7 linked regions of the Homo sapiens genome follow. The protein of the gene in region 4 purifies or fractionates together with the protein of the main gene of each other region. This does not show direct contact. Each region holds a gene or a part of one and is shown on either strand. Other genes may lie near its edges.

Evidence for each region.
Region 1: the proteins of CS (region 4) and PDHX fractionate together in Homo sapiens (co-fractionation; one large-scale study listed by BioGRID). This does not show direct contact.
Region 2: the proteins of CS (region 4) and ZDHHC5 purify together in Homo sapiens (co-immunoprecipitation; one large-scale study listed by IntAct). This does not show direct contact.
Region 3: the proteins of CS (region 4) and SDHB fractionate together in Homo sapiens (co-fractionation; one large-scale study listed by BioGRID). This does not show direct contact.
Region 5: the proteins of CS (region 4) and CHM purify together in Homo sapiens (co-immunoprecipitation; one large-scale study listed by IntAct). This does not show direct contact.
Region 6: the proteins of CS (region 4) and SUCLG2 purify together in Homo sapiens (affinity purification with mass spectrometry; 2 studies listed by BioGRID, with this or other methods). This does not show direct contact.
Region 7: the proteins of CS (region 4) and STRAP fractionate together in Homo sapiens (co-fractionation; one large-scale study listed by BioGRID). This does not show direct contact.

What each region holds. Positions count from the first base shown.
Region 1 is NC_000011.10:34,965,118-34,968,617, reverse strand, and holds part of PDHX (pyruvate dehydrogenase protein X component, mitochondrial isoform 1 precursor), read right to left. Parts: intron 1,979-3,500; coding exon 1,804-1,978; intron 1-1,803.
Region 2 is NC_000011.10:57,671,114-57,674,613, reverse strand, and holds part of ZDHHC5 (palmitoyltransferase ZDHHC5), read right to left. Parts: intron 2,594-3,500; 5' UTR 1,524-2,593; coding exon 1,420-1,523; intron 1-1,419. UniProt on the Homo sapiens protein: Palmitoyltransferase that catalyzes the addition of palmitate onto various protein substrates such as CTNND2, CD36, GSDMD, NLRP3, NOD1, NOD2, STAT3 and S1PR1 thus plays a role in various biological processes including cell adhesion, inflammation, fatty acid uptake, bacterial sensing or cardiac functions.
Region 3 is NC_000001.11:17,018,222-17,020,627, forward strand, and holds the end of SDHB (succinate dehydrogenase [ubiquinone] iron-sulfur subunit, mitochondrial isoform 1 precursor), read right to left. Parts: intron 738-2,406; coding exon 660-737; 3' UTR 501-659; downstream 1-500. UniProt on the Homo sapiens protein: Iron-sulfur protein (IP) subunit of the succinate dehydrogenase complex (mitochondrial respiratory chain complex II), responsible for transferring electrons from succinate to ubiquinone (coenzyme Q).
Region 4 is NC_000012.12:56,283,331-56,286,830, reverse strand, and holds part of CS (citrate synthase, mitochondrial precursor), read left to right. Parts: intron 1-185; coding exon 186-236; intron 237-807; coding exon 808-915; intron 916-2,973; coding exon 2,974-3,039; intron 3,040-3,500. UniProt on the Homo sapiens protein: Key enzyme of the Krebs tricarboxylic acid cycle which catalyzes the synthesis of citrate from acetyl coenzyme A and oxaloacetate.
Region 5 is NC_000023.11:85,953,559-85,957,058, forward strand, and holds part of CHM (rab proteins geranylgeranyltransferase component A 1), read right to left. Parts: intron 2,821-3,500; coding exon 2,595-2,820; intron 1-2,594. UniProt on the Homo sapiens protein: Substrate-binding subunit of the Rab geranylgeranyltransferase (GGTase) complex.
Region 6 is NC_000003.12:67,525,613-67,529,112, forward strand, and holds part of SUCLG2 (succinate--CoA ligase [GDP-forming] subunit beta, mitochondrial isoform 2 precursor), read right to left. Parts: coding exon 3,475-3,500; intron 2,611-3,474; coding exon 2,520-2,610; intron 1-2,519. UniProt on the Homo sapiens protein: GTP-specific succinyl-CoA synthetase functions in the citric acid cycle (TCA), coupling the hydrolysis of succinyl-CoA to the synthesis of GTP and thus represents the only step of substrate-level phosphorylation in the TCA.
Region 7 is NC_000012.12:15,885,387-15,888,886, reverse strand, and holds part of STRAP (serine-threonine kinase receptor-associated protein), read right to left. Parts: intron 1-3,500. UniProt on the Homo sapiens protein: The SMN complex catalyzes the assembly of small nuclear ribonucleoproteins (snRNPs), the building blocks of the spliceosome, and thereby plays an important role in the splicing of cellular pre-mRNAs.

The sequences.
Region 1 (3,500 bases), on a different chromosome or scaffold from region 4:
ATTTCTTACAGATTCATAATAGAAAGTATGAATGAGATAATAAAATATTCCTATAACTTCACTGTAGTTTTTCCATTCTGTTCCTTGGATCTCTCAAAAAAGCATGACAGATTTTAAATTATATCTAATTCCTTTCTTGTCCTTCACTCTATTTTGGGATTTCATTACAATCACTTCAAGATAATACAAAGCAAATGAAAGTGCGGCTGATTTCATTTTTACAAATATCATTAAGAAATTAAACATTTTATGTTAGCAAAGTACTTGGTCAAGTAGAATAAATGCTCTCTACATACCATAAGAATTTGAAAGTAAGGTTTACCTCCTTAATTTGAATAACTTTTTTTTTTTTTTTTTGAGATAGGGTCTTCCTCTATTACCCAGGCTGGAGTGCACATAGCTCACTACAGCCTCAACCTCCCAGTCTCAAGTGATTCCCCAATCTCCACCGCCTGAGTAGTTGGACTACAGGCACACACTACCACATCCAGCTGATTTTAAAATTTTTTTGTAGAGATGAGGTCTCACTATGTTGCCCAGGCTGGTCTTTGAATGCCTAGGTGCAGGCAATCCTCCCACCTCAGCCTCCCAAAGTGCTAGGATTACAGGTGTAAGCCACCACACCCAGCCTTGAATAACCTACTTTTAAAAGACATATGATTGAATTATACATATTTCATAGTCCATATACATTATATAGTCAAAGAGTGGACTATACACTCAATATACATAGTATCTTATCCAACTGCATGTCCTTAAAGAGCAGGTTATTCAAGTATGCAGTATATTAATCATTAATGGATATTTAAAAATCTGTTTCCCATGAAAGTTGTACTGTTTTCAACTCTTTTAAAATATCATATGGTATATAGTTCTCCACTAGGAGTACACATTTATCTATTTATTTTTTTAAGTGCCCATTCGATTTTAAATAAACTGGGCTATCCTACATTTCTTCTGATAGGAAGAAAATAACCTGAATAGGAAAGGCACAGAGAGGCAAAATGGAGTAATTTGAAAACAAAAAGGGGCTGTTATACTGCATGCATCTGAGAAGGAAAGAATGACTAGCTACATAGTTCTTCATAGTGAGATTATCAATTCCCTAGTTAAAAAGTAGAACATATCCACAAAAGGGAGCTAGTGTCAGCTACTAATTATTAGTATCACACTTAAGACATGAAACATGAGATTGTAGAGAATATATATGTTACTGAAGTTGTGGAACTTGTGGTAACTTTAAATTGAATTATAGTTCTAATGTTTATTTGGAAGTTAACACACAAACAAATTTTGGTTTCTGATAGGAAATCTGTAAAACAAAGCATTTGGAGTGTTTTATCCTTATCACTTAGCTACTATTGAAACGGATTAATAAAACTAATCTGTTTTAAATCTACTCTTAAAACACATAGTAATTGTTCTTATTTTCTCTCTCACACTTGAATCTGAAAAATAAAAATCTAGGCCAGGTGCGGTGATTCACACCTGTAATCCCAGCACTTTGGGAGGCCAAGGCGGGTGGATCACCTGAAGTCAGGAGTTTGAGACCAGCCTAGCCAACATGGTGAAACCCCGTCTCTACTAAAAATACAAAAATTAGGTGGGTGTGGTGGTGCGTGCCTATAATCCCAGCTACTCAGGAAGCTAAGGCAGGAGAATCACTTGAACTTGGGAGGCAGAGGCTGCAGTGAGCCAAGATTGTGCCATTGCACTCCAGCCTGGGTGACAGTGCAAGACTCTGTCTCAAAAAAAAAAAGAAAAACAAGAAAAAGAAATAAAAATCCACTTAGAGAACACTACCACTGCATTGGGTTGTCCAGGAGTTGATACTGGTGGGATCACAGGCCGGGGATAAGATGGTCCAGCTGTGGCCTGTAGGGGCGAAGGTGCTGTGGGAGTGGCTGTGGGGGCTGGAGTTGGTCTGGACTCGGTAATCTTGCCCGTTTGTTTCAACTGGACAAGTTTGAGAGCATCCCTGGAAATAAGAGCAAAGTAGATAACCATAATTAGCAATAAGGAATATAACAGAACTTTCAGAAAACGCAGGTGAGATGTGGAGAAAAGATACAGAAATATACAGATGTCAAGGTTATAATTAAAAACCAGTAATTTGAGCTAGAAAATTAAATCCTGTCTCTTACCTGGTCTGCTGACCATTATTTGTCACGTTCTAATATTTGCATATTTTCAAAAGCCAAACAATTAAAATGTTATTAAAATTGGGCATAAGTAGTGATTTTTAAAAAGGAAATTAGTCTTTTTTTCTGTGCAGTGGACGTTATTTGGTAGATGAACAATTAATTAAACCACTCTCATCCTTTATACTCATGAAATAATATTCACATGGCATTCAAAAAGTGTCAAGTTTATTGTAAATATGGCTTTCACCAGGATACTTCCTACATCATTGTTCACTTATTGTTTATTCATTGTTTATTATAGTGCAAATCAGCTTATTTATGACCAGGAAATCAAACCATTTTTAATTTTGCTAATATGCCATCAGTACAATCTAATATAACAAATCTAACCTATGATATCTTTTAGAATGAAAAATAACTAGTTACAGACTTGCCTTTGTATTACTCTGTAAAACAAAGGTATTTTTGTCTTGTAAGAGGATATAATTAGATTACTAAATATGCTAAGCCCTCAACTCACTATGCTAAGTTACAGTGGTATTAGGCAATATATTTTCTTAAAATAATTTTTGGAACATTTTAATATCCAATAAGTATTTTGGAAAGTATTTTTTCCAATTTAAGAAAAAAAATTGTTTTATATAATCTAAAAAGAACTTCAGGATGACACAAAATCTAAGGAAAAATTATTTCTCAGTTAATATTTTGGTATTATTTTTCCAAAAATTTGATGAAAGATAAAAGCTAGCACCTGTTGAGCATATTTGAGAAGACCCCTTTACTTATGGCAACATGGTAGGAAGAATTCTGAGATGGCCCCAATATTCCTGCCCCTGGTGTACATGCCCCATATCATCCCTCTTGACTGTATCTGGCCTGTGAATATGATGGATGTCACTCCCATTATTAGGTCCTATTATGTGACAAAATTGGTGGCATTTTATAGATATATGAGGCTCCAAATCAGTTGCATTTGAGTTAACCAAAAGGCAAACTACCCTGGAGAGGGCAGATATATCAGGTAATCTCTTAAAAGAAATTAGGCCTTCCTGGAAGAAGAGACTTGAAGTAAAGAGATAAAACTGCTGGCCCGGGAGAAGCAAACATGCATGTTGTGAACCGCCTATGGAGACCACGCATGGCAAGGCCCTGCACGTGGCCTCTGGGAGCTGTCAGTGGTTCTTGGCTGAGAGCTAGAAAGAAAACAAGGGCCACAGTCCTACAGTCCCAAGGAACTGCATTCTGTCAACAACCACATGAGCTTGGAAGAGGACCCCAAGCTTCACATGAGTCCCCAGCCTTGGCCAACACTTTGATTTCAGCCTTGTGAGACCATGAGTTCAGAACCTGGCCATG
Region 2 (3,500 bases), on a different chromosome or scaffold from region 4:
TACTTCAATGAGCCCAAGTGTTTTTATTCCCTACCACTTCAATTCACTTCTTCCTCTTTCCAGCAACCTCATGTTGCTCTGAATAACACTTCACAACTAGGTTTGAGCCTGAACCATGACAAAGTAACTTCCCAGAAGATCCAGCATGCTCTGATGATTCCAAGAGCTGCAACTAGAGCACTAAATCAATGACTCAACAGTATAAGGCTCAGAAGCCTGGTACATGTTAATTTATAAACAGGTAACAGCAAGGATGCCTTCCAGATGGTCAAGAGCTTAATAAAAAAAAAAAAAAAACTGAGGAAAAAGGGAAGGTTTAAATCACTCAGTCTCTTCCAATAACAAGTAAATGAAGAAAGTCTGAAGATCAAAGTGAGAATGATGCAGATCCTAGATCCTAAATGGGAAATTTTTTCATACCAACTGCTTTTCCCAACAGAACCAAGTAATGGGAAAATTACTGTCATTCCCTCGGCAGAAACTAACATAAAGGGACTCTTTTAGGACTCTCTTCCCAAATACAACTTACCCTTTCCTTTCTCAGTGGCCTTCACTTCTCCAGGCTTCTGTTCTTAAGAGTACAAAGAAAACCATCTGGGTAGCACTAAAAGCCAAAACTCTCTCATTGGTGTATCTTATAAATCAATTCTGAAATTTTCCAATACTCTCAGTTTCCACAATCTCAAACCTAAGTTTCAGACATCCTGGAAAAAAGCCATTAGCATTTAAAAAGGCTTTAGTCGGCCCAGCATGGTGGCTCACACCTGTAATCCCAGCACTTTGGGAGGCCAAGGTGGATGGATCACTTGAGTTCAGGAGTTTGAGACCAGCCTGGCCAATATGGTGAAACCCCATCTCTACTGAAAATAAAAAAAATTAGCCAGGTGTGGTGGTTGGCACTTTTAATCCTAGCTACTAAGGAGCCTGAGGCAGGAGAATCGCTTGAACTTGGGAGGCGGACGTTGCAGTGAGCCGAGACCGCGACATTGCACTCCAGCCTGAGTGACAGAGCAAGAGACGCTGCCTCCAAAAAAAAGCCTTTAGTCTAGTCTAGTTCTCTTTCTCATAGAATTGACTGCTTAAACTGCTTTAAGCCTCTCTGGTGGTTTCCTCCCACTTCCTTCCTAGCTTAGGATCATCTAATGATGGAGCTGGGTAGAAAAATATGAAGACATCTATGATTCCAAAATAAAGGAGGAAAGGGTAGGTAGAAGATTCAGCGAAGTAAAACTGATAACACGACTGAAAGGACAGGCTTTTTCTCATTTTTCTTACATGTCTCTGGGATTTGGATTTACCTGTACCAGACGCTGAGCCCTCTCAGTCACTTGGCTTTGCAAAACTCAAGAGAAAGCGTTATCTCCTCACTTCCCATGGAGTATCCACCCACCCAAACACCCCTGCTGGGAGAAAACTCACGTAAAGGCAAAGAAGAGTGTCGTAGCTCCCACTAGGAAGATGGCGGCTGCAGAGACCGGGACATACTTGCTGGGTTTGAATCTCTTTCCAGACTCTGCGGGCATGTTGGAGCTCTGATGGGAAATCTGCCCTGCCGCATAGCCCAGGCCCACACAGCGGCAGAACAGACAAGAAAATGGGAGGAGGGAAGCAACAGAGAGGAGTACAAAAGAAAACCAGGGAAACAGAAAACTTTATCACCCTTCCCCCTCCCAAATAAAGCCAAAGGTCAAAAGATCTCAAATGAAGGAAAGCACATGGGAGGGGGAAAGGTGATTCCAAATGATGAATAACCACCTCCCCAGAACAAGGCAGAAGGGAAGATTAAGAAACACAACTTGTACAGTTTAAAAACTGGAGACAAACAGTAGGCTGTACACATGCAAATGGTTGCAGGTGGAAAACATGGACAGTCAGACAGATCAAGATACAGCTCATGGATGGAGGCAGGTCTTCAAAAGAAGGAGAGAATATCAGGGTATGGCAAAAAAACTTTGGGCAAAGAAAAATTCTTCTGAGATACTATAGTACCTCCACGACTACAGTTCCATAAAATGTGAGCTGCACCTAAAAGAGGTGTGCCCTGTGTTTCTATTTCTATTTCAATCCAAGAAGGAACCTGAGGCCCCTTCCAACTTTAAAGAGGAGCTTTGTTTACTGCAGTCTTTGTCTCTTTTAGGTAGTCTTCTCAATGCCACCACTCCCACACCCTGACTTCACCAGGGCTTGTAGTCTGGCAATGGTGGTTTAATTTATTTCTCTCTTGATGGCTAAAGCTGGACAACAGCTGTTCTAAGTTTGAGCTGTAAATCCTTTTCTTTGAAGGGGCAAGGAAAACAGGGCAAGCTTCTCTGTCTTCAATCTCTTCTTGTTATTCCCAAGCCCTTTAAGGGCTCTGTTTCCTACAAAGTTCATGTAAAACTAAAGGGAAACTTAAAATCCTTGAAGCCATGTTCTTCCCAATAGGCAGAATAAGATGAAGAAATCAATTCCAATTGATGACACTTCAAAAGTTTACTGTGGATGAAAACGAAGTTCCAAAGATGTCCCTGTTTCCAGACTAGTCAATGTCTCTTATCTTTCTTCAGTCTTCAGCTTTCCAGATGCAGAGTTCAACCAGGTTACTGTGTCTCACCTGGAGAAAAACAAGTATCTTTATCAGAGAATTCTTTCAGGGTATTTCTTAGACACCAAGGCTAAAATTCCACAGGCTGCTGTTAAAAAGTACTTTCTGAAAGAAAGACTGTTTTCCATTTCACTTACATGTATGTGGGTAAGAAGGGACTCTGAATTCAGAGGAAAACTGACTTGAGAATCCTTTGCTCTGTTCAGATTGGAAGCAGAACATGGCTTCACCTGGCCAAAGGACATCAAAGGACTAGCTCTTGTAAGGGGCCCATCTCACCTGACATAGATGGTAGTAACAAATACCAAGAATATCAAAATCACAAACAAGGGCACAGCAGTGAAGGGCAGTCCTAGAACAAAGATTTCTCTTTGGACAAGAAGAGTGTTTATTGTTATAGTGAAAAAAGAAAAAAATTAACCTCAAAATTAGGAAAGCAAGTCTCATTTTCTTTCTCTGTGTGTTTCTTTTGCTCCTCTATGCTTTTTAGTTACAATCCTGAAGAGGTAGAAGCTGAATTTTTGGTCTTTTGGAATCACCCATTAGAACACTGGGTAAGAAATGTTCTTGCAGAGAAAGCCATGATGCCCTCTATGAGAAACTGAATAAGCATAGCATAGGGTTGGTTCTTTTTTCCCAATTCAACAGTTTATTATTCCTATATTGGCCTAAGGTAACTGAGCCCCACCTGCCCCAATATGATTAAAAGTAACAATTATTTCTGTTGATGACAATAACAAACTAACACCAGCACCTTGGGATTTTATAAAATGCTTTTCATCTGGTGATCTAAAAGCACTTTACTCACATTATCTGGTGACGCAGTCCCTTATCCCACTCTTTAAAATTGAAGGCTACAGAATGCCCGAGGACATTCCACTGAATCACCTCAGGTTCAGAACTCAAGAGGTCACAT
Region 3 (2,406 bases), on a different chromosome or scaffold from region 4:
GTGAGAGGCCCCACGAGGTCATTTGTGGAACTAACTGGATTCACAACTGACCAGGGTCATTGCTCTGTGCTGGAGGAATCTCAAACCTGGCCTCACCGACGTATCCAAAGACTTACCAAGATTTGGTTTTCAGTAATTCTGGTACTGAAAACTATAGAAACTGGGAAGATACAGAACACTAACACTAACTGAGTGTTCAGAATAAGTGCCAGGCATTCTCATACCAGATGAATGAAGTAGGCACAATTATGGATCCCATCTTACAGATGGGCGAATGGAGCAGCAAAGAGGTGAAGGAACTTGTCCAAGGTTGTCTAGCTGGTGAGTGGCAAAGCTGGGAACAAGCTGCAGGCCCTGCTGATGTCAGTTCCACGGCTCATCACCTCCTTCCAGCTAGGGTACCCCCACCCCCGCTCAGCTCTGAAGCCCTGTCCATCTCTCCAAGGACAAGGACTCCTGGCACCTTCACATTCCCCTGCGGCAAGTAAAGGAACAGGTTCTTTTTTTTTTGTTAATAAAGTAGAATAACATTTATTTCTTAAAATTTTTATTATACATGCTGTATTCATGGAAAACCAAGATCTTTAAAGGAACTCAAATTAGATATAAATTATGTTCAGCTCTGAGCTGGTTATAAATCATGTTTAGCATGGAAACAGTTAAACTGAAGCTTTCTTCTCCTTATAGGTTGCCATCATTTTCTTGATCTCTGCAATAGCTTTCCCTGGATTCAGACCCTTGAAAAAAGAGAAAAGAATCAATAACAAATGATAACTGAAACTGAAAGGGAAAACCCACAATCTTGGGTGAAACTCCTTCCTCAGCTGGTTCAGTGTCCAAGCAAGGTGAATGCAAATCAAGTCCCTCAAAACCATAGGGGTTGGGCTAAGGGCTCTCTTCTGTCTACCTTTTTTAACATTTGAAGATGGTCAGCTCCCTCTGGCAAGAGCTCTGCCACGTTGAATTCCTTCTTGTGTGGCTCACTCTAACAGGTAAACAGGCCCAGGGCAGAGGTGCACTCTCTGACTGCTCAAAGACACTCAGGGTAGTGTCTCTTCTAGGACTACAGGCCAATGTCAAAATCAGCCAGACATCTCTAAATCTTTTACATCATCATTATTAAATAGGCAGCAGCAGAAATCAGCATATACCAGCTCTCAAAAGTATGTGGAAGAAACTACCCTCTCTATTAACCCTTTGTAAAACCATGATGATTTCAACTGGCCAATACCATTGGTATTAGCTGCAGTTTGCCCCTACAGCTGTTAACATCTGCTTTGCAGGAGGCACAATAATTAAACCCACTGAATGCCAGCTTCATTGAAGTAGAAAGTAGGAAGTACTTTACCAAGTACTTGCTTTTACCAAGCAAGTACTTGGTAAAATGAGACAAGTACTCATCTGACGTTAGTGAAGGTTCCCCTCATTTTAGAAGGATAAGTCTACCCCCCTAAAAAAGTGTTGTGGAAAGAAAGAAGAAAAGGAAAGAAAGAAAAGAGATCTTGAGAGAAGAAGAGAAAGAAAAAATATATATTTTTTTGACAGGGTCTTGCTCTGTCATCCAGGCTGAAGTGTGATCATAGTTCACTGTGGCCTGGAACACCTGGCTCAAGTGATCCTCCGGCCTCAGCCTCTCAAGTAACTGAAACTACAGGTGCGTGCCACCACACCTGGCTAATTAAAAAAAATTTTGTTTGTAGAGATGGGATCTCACTATGTTGTCCAGGCTGGTCAAAAAGACACTCTTCATATACCAACATGGGATAATCTCCAAAATATAGTGGGTGAAAAAATACAGATAAATGTGATATAAGAAAGACAGAAGAGGACACATATGCATTTGTGTGCAGCATAAAACACCTCTGAAGTTCACACAAGAATCTGACTTCTAGGGAGGTGGCTGGGTGGAGTGGGAGGGAGAATTTTCACTGTATATCCTTCTGAATCTGGATCTACCTGTGTATTTCCGGTCCCCACAGGGTCAGTAAGGGTGTTTAGACTTAGAAGGTTGGTACATACCCAATCCATGCAGGAAGAAAGAGCACTGGATGGGGAGGCAGACGGCCTAACTCTAGTCCTACCTTCCCACTGACCTGACAGTGATCTGGGGCGAGTCACTCCCCTCCCCACCTGGGGCTCAATTTCCCCATCTGTATAAGGGGATTAAACTTGATGGTTTTCAAGTCCCTTCCAGTTTCATGATCGGCCTATGTCTATGTCTCAGTCCCAACTTCCAGCCCTGTTTTACAGAAGGGAGGGCAAGGCACAGAGAACCTGTTCTTGGCTGTCTCAGTTGTCTGCTGCACCCATCCCCTCCATGCACAGGTTTGTGACCAGGAATGCACCTTAGAGTCACTCGCAGAGCTTCTGAAGAAACACACAGCCAGGCCCCACCACTGAAGATGC
Region 4 (3,500 bases):
CCTCCTGCTGTCTCCATAGTGGTAACTCCTTCCAAACTGTTTGGGGACTTTTACAGCTTTCTTATGTCAAACTGCCCTAAGAGACTGAGATGAAGAGAGAGAGGTTGAGTCACTGTAATTCCTTCTTGTTAATATAAAAGAGGGAGGGGTAACAGTTACATAAGGTTCTCTTTTTTGCTTTGCAGAATGCATCTTGTCTTGTTCTTGCAGCCCGGCATGCCAGTGCTTCCTCCACGGTAAGGTTTGGAAAAGAAGACTAAGAATAAGAATCATTGCGGCCAGCCTGACCTTGGGGCAGAGGATTTGGCAACCACCTGGCCTCTTATTATCCTGAGTATTTCCTGGAAGTGTTTGTTACTATTGTTATTGTTATAGCTGCTATTATTATTATATTACTATTTAACAAATAATTTACTCAGTGGTATAGTGAGATGGGAATATCAATACATTTGCCTAATTCTTTTAAATGTTTTAAGTAGTGTAAAATATACATAACATAAAATTTACCATTTTAATCATTTTTAAGTATATGGTTTAGTGGCAGTAGATATGTTTACATTATTGTGCAACCATCCATCTCCAGAACTTTTGTCTGCCCAAACCGAGAAACTGTTCCCATTAAACATTAACTCCTCATTCCTTCTTCCCCCTGCCTAATTCTTTTACCCTCATTTGTGCAGAGTAGTTGACCAGACTTCCCTGGCAGATAAAGCCAGCTTCTAAAAAGCAAATTCTTGACACACCTACTTTGCAGGAAATCTAATAAACTTTTAGACCATTGCTTAGTCCTTCTACTTTTCTTTTTAGAATTTGAAAGACATATTGGCTGACCTGATACCTAAGGAGCAGGCCAGAATTAAGACTTTCAGGCAGCAACATGGCAAGACGGTGGTGGGCCAAATCACTGTGGACATGGTAAGGGTTGTGTGGCTTTGGCTGGGAAAAGTAGCTCTGTAATGTGCTTCAACAAAAGTAACATTCTCTCCACTGACTATTCAAAAGCATTCTGTCCCATAGGCCCTGTAGGACAGCTTTAGGATGACTTTTCCCCATCCTTCAGATTCTGAGCAGCTCAGCTGATAGTTTCTCAACAGTTTTTAGCTTATTGGTCTCCATCCCCTTCTCCTAGACTAGAACTCATTCTGTTTGTTTTGATTGGTTGGAATTTGAGGGTAGGGTATGTTGGGGAGTGGTTGAGTGGGCAGGAGAAAAAAAGTGAAATACAATAAGAAAAGGAATCAAACAGAGGGCGCAATGGCTCATGCCTATTATCCCAACATTTTGGGAGGCTGCAGTTGGAGAATCACTTGAGGCCAGGAGTTAACAACCAGCTTGATCAACAAAGGAAGATACAATCTCTATGAAAGAAAAATTTAAAAAATTAGCCAGAGATGGTGGGATGCCCCTGTAGTCCCAGCTACTGGGGAGGCAAAGGCAGGAGGATTGCTTGAGCCCAGGAGTTCAGGGCTGCAGTGAGCCATGATTATGCCACTGTAGTATAGCCTGGGCAACAGAGGGAGACCCTATCTCCAAAACAAACAAAAAGAAAGATAGTGATTTCTCAACTTAAAAAATTTCATTTCCAGGCCTGTTGCAGTGGCTCATGCCTGTAATCCCAGCACTTTGGGAGGCTGAGGCGGGTGGCTCATCTGAGGTCAGGAGTTCGAGACCAGCCTGGCCAACATGGTAAAACTCCGTCTCTACTAAAAAATATAAAAATTAGCTGGGCATGGTGGCAGGCAACTGTAATCCCAGCTACTCAGGAGCCTGAGGCAGGAGAATCACTTAAACCCAGGAGGCAGAGGTTGCAGTGAGCTGAGATTGCACCATTGCACTCCAGCCTGGGCAAGAGTGAGACTCCATCTGGGGGGAAAAAAAAAAAGATCAGCCTTGGCAACATGGCTGGCAAAACCCTGTTTTTTTTTTTTTTTTTGGGACGGAGTCTCACTGAGTCACCAGGCTGGAGTACAGTGACGTGATCTCGGCTCACTACAACCTCCGCCTCCCGGGTTCAAGCGATTCTTCTGCCTCAGCCTCCTGAGTAGCTGGGATTACAGGCCCGCACCACCACGCCCAGCTGATTTTTGTATTTTTAGTAGAGACAGGGTTTCACCATGTTGGCCAGGATGTCTCGATATCCTGACGTCGTGATCTGCCCGCCTTGGCCTCCCAAAGTGCTGGGATTACAGGCGTGAGCCACTGCACCCGGCCTAAACCCCATTTCTTTAAAAAAAAAAAAAAGAAATACAAAAATTAGCCAGACATGGTGGCACGTGCCTATAATCCCAGCTACTCAGGAGGCTGAAGTGGGTGGATCACCTGAGCCTGCAAGTCAAGGCTGCAGTAAGCCGTGATTGTGCCACTGTGCTGCAGCCTGAGTGACAGACTCTGTGAGAGGCTTAGTGATCTTCCCTCCTCCTCAGCCTCCCAAAGTGCTGGGATTACAGGCATGAGCCCCACCGTACCTGGCCACAAAGTTTGTTTTTTTTTTTCTTTTTTTTTTTTTTTTTTGAGATGGAGTTTTGCTCTTGTCACCCAGGCTGAAGTGCAATGGTGTGATCTTGGCTCACTGCAATCTCTGCCTTCTGGGTTCAAGCGATTCTCCTGCCTCAGCCTCCCAAGTAGCTGGGATTACAGGCACATACACCATGCCCGCTAATTTTTTAATTTTTAGTAGAGACATGGTTTCACCCTGTTGGCCAGGCTGGTCTCAAACTCCTGACCTCAGGTGATCCACCTGCCTCGGCTTCCCAAAGTGCTGGGATTACAGGTGTCAGCCACTGTGCCTGGCCACAAAGTTTAATTCTTTAGTAAGCTGACTCCTCAGACATCTCTCACCAAATGAAGTCTTACAAGTCTGAGAATAAATTTTCTCTCCCAGATCCCATGAAGCTCTAACAAGTTCTAGTCTGAATCATTCTGATTACTGGCCACAGCCTCTTTTTTTTTTCCTTCTTTCTTCATCCTCTTTAGATGTATGGTGGCATGAGAGGCATGAAGGGATTGGTCTATGAAACATCAGTTCTTGATCCTGATGAGGTAAGACATCTTCATGTCAATTACTAATAATCATTGAGTTTGTGCAAATACGCAAACCGTGGATTAGACCAGTAAGGGTAAGCACAAAACAGAGCACCTAGCTTCATATATTGGAAGGTAGAGAAGACATATGTATGGAATAATTGAAGAACAAATTTACCTTTTAAATATATCAACTAGTAAAAATAAAAGTACAAAACCAGAGGTAAGTTATGTGAAGATTTAAGCTTAATTTAAAGTTCTGTTCTGGACTGGGCGCAGTGGCTCACACCTGTAATCCCAGCACTTTGGGAGGCTGAGGCGGGCAGATCATGCGGTCAGGAGGTTGAGACCGTCCTGGCTAACACGGCGAAACCCTGTCTGTACTAAAAACACACAAAATTAGCCGGGCATGGTGGCAGGCACCTGTAGTCCCAGCTACTCGGGAGGCTGAGGCAGGAGAATGGCGTGAACCCAGGAGG
Region 5 (3,500 bases), on a different chromosome or scaffold from region 4:
GGCATAAAAACAGACACATAAACCAAAAAAACAGAATAGAGAACCCAGAAACAAATCCACACACCTACAGTGAACTCATTTTTGACAAAGGTGCCAAGAATATACACTGGGTAAAAGACAGTCTTTTCCATAAAGGGTGTTGGGGTAACTGGATATCTGTATGCAGAAAAATGAAACTAGACCCCTATCTTTTGCAGTATATAAAAAGCAAATCAAAATGGATTAAAGAATTAAATCTAATGCCTCAAACTTTGAAACTACTACAAGAAAACATCGGAGAAAACCTCCAAGACACTGGTCTGGGCAAAGATTTCTTAAGCAATGCCCCACAAGCACAGGCGACTAAAGCAAAAATGGACAAACGGGAACACATGAAGTTAAAAAGTTTCTGCACAGCAAAAGAAACCATAAACAAAGTGAAAAGACAACCCACAGAATGAAAGAGAATATCTGCAAACTACCCGTCTAACAAGGAATTAATGACCAGAATATATAAGTAGCTCAAACAACTCTACAGGAAAAAAATCTAATGATATGACTAAAAATTGGGCAAAAGATCTGAATAGACATTTTTCAAAAGAAGACATACAAATGACAAGGAGACATATAAAAAGGTGTTCAACATCACTGATCATCAGAGAAATGCACATCAAAATTACAATGAGATATTTTATTACCCCAGTTAAAATAACTTTTATTCAAAAGAAAGACACTAGCAAATGCTGGCAAAGATACGGAGAAAAGGGAACCCTTGAACACTGTGGGTGGGAGTGTTAATTAGTACAACCACTGTGGAGAACAGTTTGGAAGTTCCTCAGAAAAGTAAAAATAGAGCTACCATACGATCTAGCAATCCCACTGCTAGGTATATACCCAAAAGAAAGGAAATCAGTGTATCAAAGGGATATCTACATACCACATTTGTCGCAGCACTGTTCACAATAACCAAGATTTGGAAGCAACCTAAGTGCCCAGCAACAGATAAATGGATAAAGAAAATGTAGTACAGTTACACCTTGGAGTAATACTCAGCCATAAAAAGAACGAGATCCTGGCTGGGCATGGTGGCTCACGCCTGTAATACCAGCACTTTGGGAGGCTGAGATGGGTGGATCACAAAGTCGGGAGTTCAAGACTAGCCTGGCCAAGATGCTGAAACTCCATCACTACTAAAAATACAAAAATTAGCCAGGTGTGGTGGCACGTGCCTGTAATCCCAGCTACTCAGGAGACTGAGGCAGGAGAATCACTTGAACCTGGGTGGCAGAGGTTGCAGTGAGCCGAGATCACACCACTGCACTCCACCCTGGGTGACAGAGCAAGACTCCATCTCCCAAAAAAAAAAAAACAAAAGAATGAGACCCTGACATTTGCAACAACATGACAACATGGATGAAACTGGAGGTCATTATATTAAGTGAAATAAGCCAGCCACAGAAAGACAAACAATGCATATCCTCACTTACTTGCGGGAGCTAAAAATTAAAACAATTAAACATATGGAGACAGAGAGTAAAAGGATGGTTATCAGAGCCTGGGGCGGGTTTTGAGGGGGCAGCGGATAAGTAGGAATGGTTAATAGGTACAAAACGTAGTTAGAAAGAATGAATAAAATCTAGTGTTTGATATTACAACAGAGTGACTACAGTCAATAATGATTTAATTGTACATGTTAAAATGAAGAGTATAATTGGATTGTTTTCAACACAAAGGATAAATGTGTGAAGGGATGGATACTCCATTTACCATGATGGATTACACTTTGCATGCCTGTATTAAACTATCTCATGTACCCCACAAACACATATGCCTCCTATGTACCCACAAAAAATAAAAATTTTTAAAAATGTGTAAAACAAACAAAAAAAGACACAAACAAGTATTCCCTGAAGATAAAACATGAATGGCCAGTAAACATATGAGAAAAGGTTCAACTTCATAGGTAATTAGGGAAATGAAAAATAAAAATCCAATGCAATGATAATTTATGTGAGTTAGGTTGACAAAAAAATTTTAAATGTTGGCAAACATGTAAAGCTTTGGGTATTCTTATGTACGGCTAAAAGGTTATAATTGGTACAGCCCTCTAGAGAAATAACTGAACACGATGTTGTAAAGTGTTAACATTCATGTATCTCAGGACTGGGGAATTCCACCCCTAGATATGTTTCCGAGAGAAATTCTTGAACATACACAACTTGAAACATACACAAGGGTGTTAACCTCAAAAAACTGGAAACATCCTGTGTTCATCAACAGAAAAATGAAAAAATAGATTGTGGTGTATTCACAATAACATACTATATAGTAATAAAAAATTAACTAAAATTATATGCAATGACAATACTTTCCATCATGCTATTGAGTGGAAAAAGGAATTTATAGTATTTTTATCAAGCTCAAAAAGAGGCCACACTGAATATATCACTTAGGTGGGTAGATAGGTAGGTAAATAGATTATAAAAAATAAATAGAATAAAGTATATATTTGCATATACTAAATCTTGAATAAATCTCATTTTTGCCTGCCTAATTTTCATCTGTTATTCAAGTATCACTTTTAGAAGGGACAAGAAAATCAATGGCAAACTTACCTGCAGAAACACTGGGGGAGTTCTCCTTGGCCATATAAAGGAAACAAAAATGGAGTGTTGCCATACCGCCCAAGACAGTGAAGAAAGTTTTTGGTAGCTTTGAGACCATCTATGGTGCTGCTGGCTGTCTCTGATGTCATTGCAATTGAATGCATGACAATATATTGGAGGTTGGGGGTTAATTTTTGAGTCTTTAAATATTCATAAAATGTGATCTCTTCATATCCTATGAAAAGATGAAATTTTATCACTTAAAATCAGAACTAAACTTCTATTTAAAACCACCCCACAAAAAGGAGATGAAGTGTGTTTCACAGACCTCACAAAGGACATAGGTGGTATTACATTTTGGACACTGATGGTTGATCTTAGGAAAAAATGGAAACAATCTCTCTCTCTTATTTGGAGTAATGGCACAATTTTTAGCTTTAAATGATGAATTATGATTGAGCATTTCATGGATTTAAAAAAAACTAGAAAATATTAAATAACTCAATGGGTTGTCATAGTTGGCAATAATCTCACTTTATTATCATGAAACCTGCAGGATAATGCCAATAATGGTACTGAAAATATTAAACAACTATGACAACATGGGAATGTATTGATTTAAAATGATAAATATGTGAGTTTTGTAAAACGTATACTTCTCACTGATACTCAGAAAATAAACTAAAAAATAATGAAATGAATTTCCATGTGGCTACTGGAATCAGTCTTATGGCCACATAATCACATCAAAACATACGGGACCCCCAGAAGTTACTCCTTTAAACCAAGAACAGAATATAATGTAATTGGACTGTTAGTGGTGGGAAATAAATCCCATGATAAAAGACAAAAACTTTACAGAAATAATTTACATAAATAAAAATTATGAAAATTTACTGAGAGAATTGAATTTTA
Region 6 (3,500 bases), on a different chromosome or scaffold from region 4:
CAACTTATTCAAAAGTCAACTCAAAATGGATCACAAACCTAAATATAAAACATAAAACTATAAAACATCTAGAAAAAAACATGAGAAAATTTTTATTATGTAGGGCAACGTAAAGAGGACTTAGACCTGATACTAAAAAGGTATAATCCATAAAGGAAATATTGACGTATTGGACTTCATCAAAATTAAACACTTTTGCCCTGCAAATGACCCTGTTGAAAAAATGAATATATACGTTATATAGTGTAACAGATAATACTTACAAAGCACATATCCAACAGTGGACTAGTACCTAGAATAACTCAAAACTCAATAGTAAAAACATAATCTAATTAGAAAATGGCCAAAAGAAATTTGCTTTGTCTCTTCATGCTGCTGTTACAAAATACCTGAGATTTGGTCATTTATAAAGGACAAAAATATATTGTTTCACAGTTCTGGAGGCTGGGAAGTCCAAGATCAGTGCACCGCCATTTAGTGATATGGCCTTTCTTGCTTCATCCTCACATGGCAGAAAGTGGAAATGCAAAACAGGTCTAAGCTAGTTCCCTTCAGCCCTTTTATAAAGCACTACCAGGGATGTCCAATATTTTGGCTTCCCTGGGCCACAATGGCATAAGAAGGATTGTCTTGGGCCGCACATAAAATACACTAACACTAACAATAGCTGAGCTAAGAAACTAAAATTGCAAAAAAAATCTCATAATGTTTAGAAAGGTTACAAATTTGTCTTGGGCCACTTTCAAAGCCATCCTGGGATGCCTGTGGCCTGTGGGCCGTGGGTTGGACAAGCCTGCACTAATCCATTCATGAGGGCAGAGCCTTCATGACTAATCACTTCCCAAAAGGCTCTGCCTCTTAATGCAAACCACAATGGGGATTAAATTTCAACATGCATTTTGGAGGGAGCATTCAGACCATAGCATCCATGAACAGACAATTCACCAACCACAATCTACAGATGGCAAATAAGCACATGAAAAGATGTTCAACATCTTTAGCCATTAGGGAAATGCAAATTAAAATCACAATGAAATATCACTACACACCCATAAGAATGGCTAAAATAATACCACCACCACCAAATGCGGGCTAGAATGTGGAGAACCCTGACCACTTACACATTGCTGATGGCAATGTAAAATGGAACAGCCATGCTGGAAAACATTCATCAGTTTCTTAAAAAAACTAATTATACAACTTCCACATAACCCAACAATTATCCCCCAAAATGAAGATTTATATTTATACCAAAAACCTGTTCATGAATGTCTAGAGTGGCTTTATTTGTAATAGCCAAAAACGAACCAACCCAGATGTCTTTCAACAGATGATGGTTAAACAAACTGTGGTAGGTACATCCATATCATAGATTGCTACATAGCAAGAAAAAGGACTGTAACGGGATTATTACACATTGTATGCCTATATCAAAACATCTCATGTACCTTATAAATATATACACCTACTATGTACCCACAAAAATTAACAAAAGAAAATGGAACTAAATACTGATAAATACAACAACTTAAGAGTTTTCCACAAAACTCTCCCTGAAAAGTAAAAACAGGATGTCACCACTGCAGTGTCCTGCAGCATGGTGCATTGGTAGAGACCACTGATCTGTGACGCTATGTCAACAGAGCAGACAGCTGCCACCCCAAAATGCAGGACCCTAATTCGCTGTTAGGACAGGATCTTCTAACCATGGATGCTTTTCAGGGCTGACACATGTGATCTGTGTAGTTGTAAAGGGATTTAATGTTTAGCTATAGCTGTCTTGAAATTTTAACACGGGTCCCTGCCTTTTTATTTGGCACTGGATTCTGCAACCCAGGTAGCTAGTTCTAGTGTCTGGATACACAAAAGGGATGGTGAAAGGTAGATTGGCAGGAGGGAGAGTTAGGTTCTGGTCTCAGCTCTACCACTCACAATTTCATGACTGAGGCAGGCCACTTTCCTCTGGGCTTTATTTTCTATGTGTGGATGAGGGGTGTGTGTCCACATGCTATACATACTTGGGTACTTCAGCTGACCTTCCTAATGCAATATACCCCCAGCAATAAAAATGGCTCAAAATTACAGTCATCCTAAAATAAGGAATGGGGCATTTAGAAAAACAACCACAATAGGTAATTCTGACAGACACGCCTGGGGTTGAGGGCCACTGTGTGGGAGCAGCGAATGTCCCTCACTGAGTATAAGGCTGTCACAGCAAGCGCTTCTCAACTAAATAGAATGCATCTGTGTTCTCAGAGGGAAAGCCATTGCTCGGTCACTCACCCTCACCCACTTTTTGCTAAATGCTAATGATAATAAATAATATTACTATCATAGAGCCCTTTTTATTTCTCCTCCAAGACATACTACTTACTAAACAGATTAGATGAGCTTTAAAAAATAAAATGGCACACTGCCAAAGAGCAGTACTTCATTAGATTCTGTCAAAAACTGAAGGATGGTTTTCTTTTCTATTTTTTAACACATATATAGAAAATGACCCAAAGTATCCATATTACCTTGTTAACTTTCACACCTTCTTTTGGAGTTTGTTTTGTCGCTAGATTGTACCCAATCATCTGTTTAGCCAGCTGTCCCACAACATTAGGGCTAAGAGAAAGAGAAAACAAGCAGAAAATGAATGTTTGTTGAAAATCATTTAAATGAGAGTCCTTACACAGAGCCTCATGTCTACACTGCAAAGGGTTCACCTTCACCCTCACAAAATCCATGAGTCTTTCTGCTTATGTGCTGCGTGTTTAGCACTGTACTAGAGGCTCACTGAGAGCAAAATAAAAGTGAGTTCATGAATGAATAAATGAAACAAAAGATGCTTTGTGACCTCTTCACCCAAAAAAGTTACAGTCATAGTAAAGAGAGAATGCTGAAATGCACACCAGATTCAGATAAGGGTTGACTGAAGATCCGACAGTGGAAAACTGGGGAGATATTGAACAATGAGAGGGAAAGGAAGAGGGTAAAGATCAAAGTAAATAGTAAAAAGGTGTGTGACAGGAACAGGGAGGAGAGGAAAGTGTTCAGTGCTAGGAGATGCAGGAGATGAAGTTGAAAAGACAGGCTCAAATAAAGGAAGGCTTGGACTATCAGAGGGGAGGTACCCCAGATGCCACTGGTAATGGGGAGTCCCTTCAGGTCCTTGAATAGAGGAGTGACATTATGGAAGTAGCATTTCAGTTGGAAGTGGTATCATTTCCAACATTTATGATGAATCATTGATTGTTTAGGACAGAAGGACTGTCAAGTTTTCACCAATTAGTAAGAAAAATCATTTTGTGGGGGCAGAAGGAAAACTAGGGCACTGCCAGAGCCCTCTACCTATGATTTCAGTTTCTTCTAGTTGCTTTGGCCCGCTCCTACCCCACCACAACCAACCTCAGTGTGCCTTTCAATCTTGAGCAAGATCTTCCATAACTGCTTGGCCAAAAGACAAGGAATAACAACCTCCAGACTTACTCTTTTGTTAAATGAACACCTCCTTT
Region 7 (3,500 bases), about 40 Mb from region 4:
ATTAAATATATATCATTCTATACTTAGTGCTAAGGCACAAATGGGAGACAAAAAATACCCCACAGTAGGTTCTTGCCATAGTAGAGCTTTAGCTGAGGAGAAAAACATGCATTAAATATCACATTTAAGAAATATAATTAAAAGACATATATATGGCTATAAAAACTCAGAAAAAAGCACCTAGATATTGTCCAGAAAATGTAAGTAACAGAGCTAGCCGTCGGAAGAAGCAAAGAGAAATATATCAGGGGAAAAAGAAGGGAAGGCTATTCTAGATAAGCATTAATAGCATGTGCAATGTGGTTAATGAATATGAAAGACCATCTAACAGGAATGCTCATGATACACTACCAAAGCTTGCAATATTTAATAATGTGGGTCATGTGAGTGGCTGAATAAATATGTTCTGAAAGAAATAATGTCAACTATAAGTAGCCTTGCTGCTAAACTCCCTAGTATTCATTTCTCTTTGCCCAGGAAACTTGCTCCTCTCTCTGTCATTCCAATGCAACTCTCTGGCCCCAATCTACTTTCCCAACCTCATTTTGTATTGTTTCTCTGAATCTAGCAACACTAGATTATAAACCACTCCTCAAATAACTTACGTATTTTCTTCCAGGCTCCTATGTTCTTGTTTATATTATTCTCTTAAGTCTGTATTTTACATTCTTAGCTATTAAAGTTCTACTCACCCTTAGGGCTCATTTCAAATGCTATCTTTTCTTTGAAACTATTTATCCTCAACTCCAATAATTAACCATTCCTTTCTGTTCTCCCACAGAACTCCACTTATTACGGTGCTTAAATTTGCTTTGTTTTTTGTTTACATATATCCTTAATCACAGTGAAATGCATTTCATGGTTGTGGTAAGGGTTCACAAGTATTAGAATGACAGAAAGCATCAAAAGTGAAGAAAACAACAAATGTATCTAAAATTACTATTCTAATTATTCACAAGTCTCCAAAGAAACCCGGGCAATGTCCTTTGATATGCTAATTTCAAGTTTATTAAATAATCTCCCATAAACTTAAAACCTCTCTCTCTTTTTTTTTTTGAGACAGGATCTTGGTATATTGCCCAAGCTATACTTGAACTCCTGGCCTCAAGATCCTTCCACCTCAGCCTCCTAAGTAGCTACAGGCTAACGCCAACATGGCAGCTCTAAAATCTTAAGATTCTGCTTAGACTGTGTCTATTCAAAGGTGAGAAGAGAGTTGGAGTGACCAAAGTAGTAATATTAACCAGAGAGGTAATGTGTCTGTAGTTTTTCCTCCTATTTAGAAACAGTACTAAAATAGAGGCATGACATTTTCTGACAGGGCATGTACTAACTCTGGCAGATTTCCATTATTCACAGTAAGAGCCCTAAAATGGATCTAATCTAAATGTTTCCTAATGTATTATTCAATCTCCAGGCAAGAAATTGACATATATTAGTTGGCCACAGGGCTCAAATCAAGACAGTAAAGCGCTATTAACAATACCCTTTCAGCAGCTAACCCTCCAACATTTTCTTCACATCCCACGAAGTACTTGTCATCTCCTTAAACTACTGTTACCTCTTATACCCCAGTTTCTTGCAAATAATAATGCTGCCTGATACTTTCCATATCCTCAGAATGAACTTACCGTAAGTCTCATAATAGGAGCTGCTTAACTTACTTATTTAAACCTTCAACAAAACAGGCCAGTTTAAGATTTTTAAAAAATTGCCCAAATACCTTAACATGTTGACCAAGTCATCTAGGAGATAATACCATTTTCGATTTATCAAGAACCTTATTAAAACTAAAATTAGATATTTCTATTGGCTTTACAAGAAAGAAAGAGTGATACATTGTGATTACCTATAAATTCCTGGACCCAATCCCAGATCTACTTAAGCCCTCTTGGGAGCACAGCACAGAATTGTCTTTACTTTGGCACTCTTCCCAAATAGATACAAAGAGATGGTGTTTTAGGGACACTGTACTCAACACTGGACTCAATTGCCCGAATTACTCCAAGATAACATTCTACACTAGTCCACAGACCTATTCTGCTAAATTTCTCCACAAGAAACGGGACCAAATTCCACTTCTAAATGACCACACCATAAATGAGTTTTCCAAGAAACGTAAGAATGGAGGGAAAAAAAAATTGTTTCTAAAAATGCTTTATACCAACCATGACTAATCAGGTAGGCTGTGGGGAGTAACTTCTTGGAGAGAATACACACACACACAAACACGCACATGAAAACACGCTCCTACACCCCACAGACAAGACATAGAGGAAATGAGGGATAAATCTCAACTAGCATTTATTGAGCACCTACTATGTGACAGAGATCATATTGGACTTCAGGGATATATGGTGGAGAAAGATCTCTCTGTTCCTCCAATAATCTCATGGGTCTTAGTCCCATTTTACAGATATGAAAGCCGACATTTAAGAAACATCCTGCCATGGTGGGCAGATCGCTTGAGCCCAAGAGTTCAAGACCAACCTGGACAACATGGTGAAGCCCATCTCTACAAAAAACACAAAGATTAGCCAAGCATGGTAGTACACGCCTGTGGTCACTATTCAGGAGGCTGAGGTTGGAGAACTGCTTGAGACTGGGAGATAGAGGCTGCAGTGAGCTATGATCACGCCACTGCACTCTAGCCTAGGCACCTAAGACCCTGTTTCAAAAAAAAAAAAAAATCCTATGATGATCAAACTGGAAATACACAGCATAGTTAGCACACGAATGCAAGCCCACCTAGTGCCAATGCTTGTTATTATTTTCCACTCTAACACAGCACCTAAAGCCTTAACTGAGGAGGGGGAAAAAAAAATCACAAAAATCTTCCTTCTTGACATTTAAATCTATTCAATCTTCCTTATATGAGGCCAAATAGTTTGAAGGCTTTAGCCATATTAGTTTCAAAATAATATGTGATTTTGATCAAGTGCGGGTGGTGATAGTTTACATGGTAGCTATCATCGTTACTTTACATATGTAACACTTTCATAGGTGTAATAGACTTCAGGCAATGTTGTAAGTATTCGAAACATATTAACTTATTTAATATTCAAAACCAACCTATGAATTAGGTACCATGACAGAAAAAAAAATGGTTAAATAAAGTGCATGAGGCCACCAATTCAAATTCAGGTCATCTGGCTCCAGCCTTCATGCTCTTAATACACCACTTGTAAACACAGACATTGAGACTTGAAATGTTAAGAAAGCATAAAAACAACACTGTTTCAATAAACAAGAGCATACAGTCACGTATCTGCCACCACAGTCAATCAGCCTTCATTTTTTCATTCTAAAATTGGTATGTTTAATGTACTTAAAATGAAGGAGGCAGCAGATTTACAATTGCTCCTTAGTGTGAGGTTGTTAAAAAAAAAAAAAAAAAAGGCCAGGCACGGTGGCTCACACCTGTAATCCCAGCACTTTGGGAGGCCAAGGCGGGCAGATCACTTGAGGTCAGGAGTTCGAGACCGGCCTGGCCAACATGG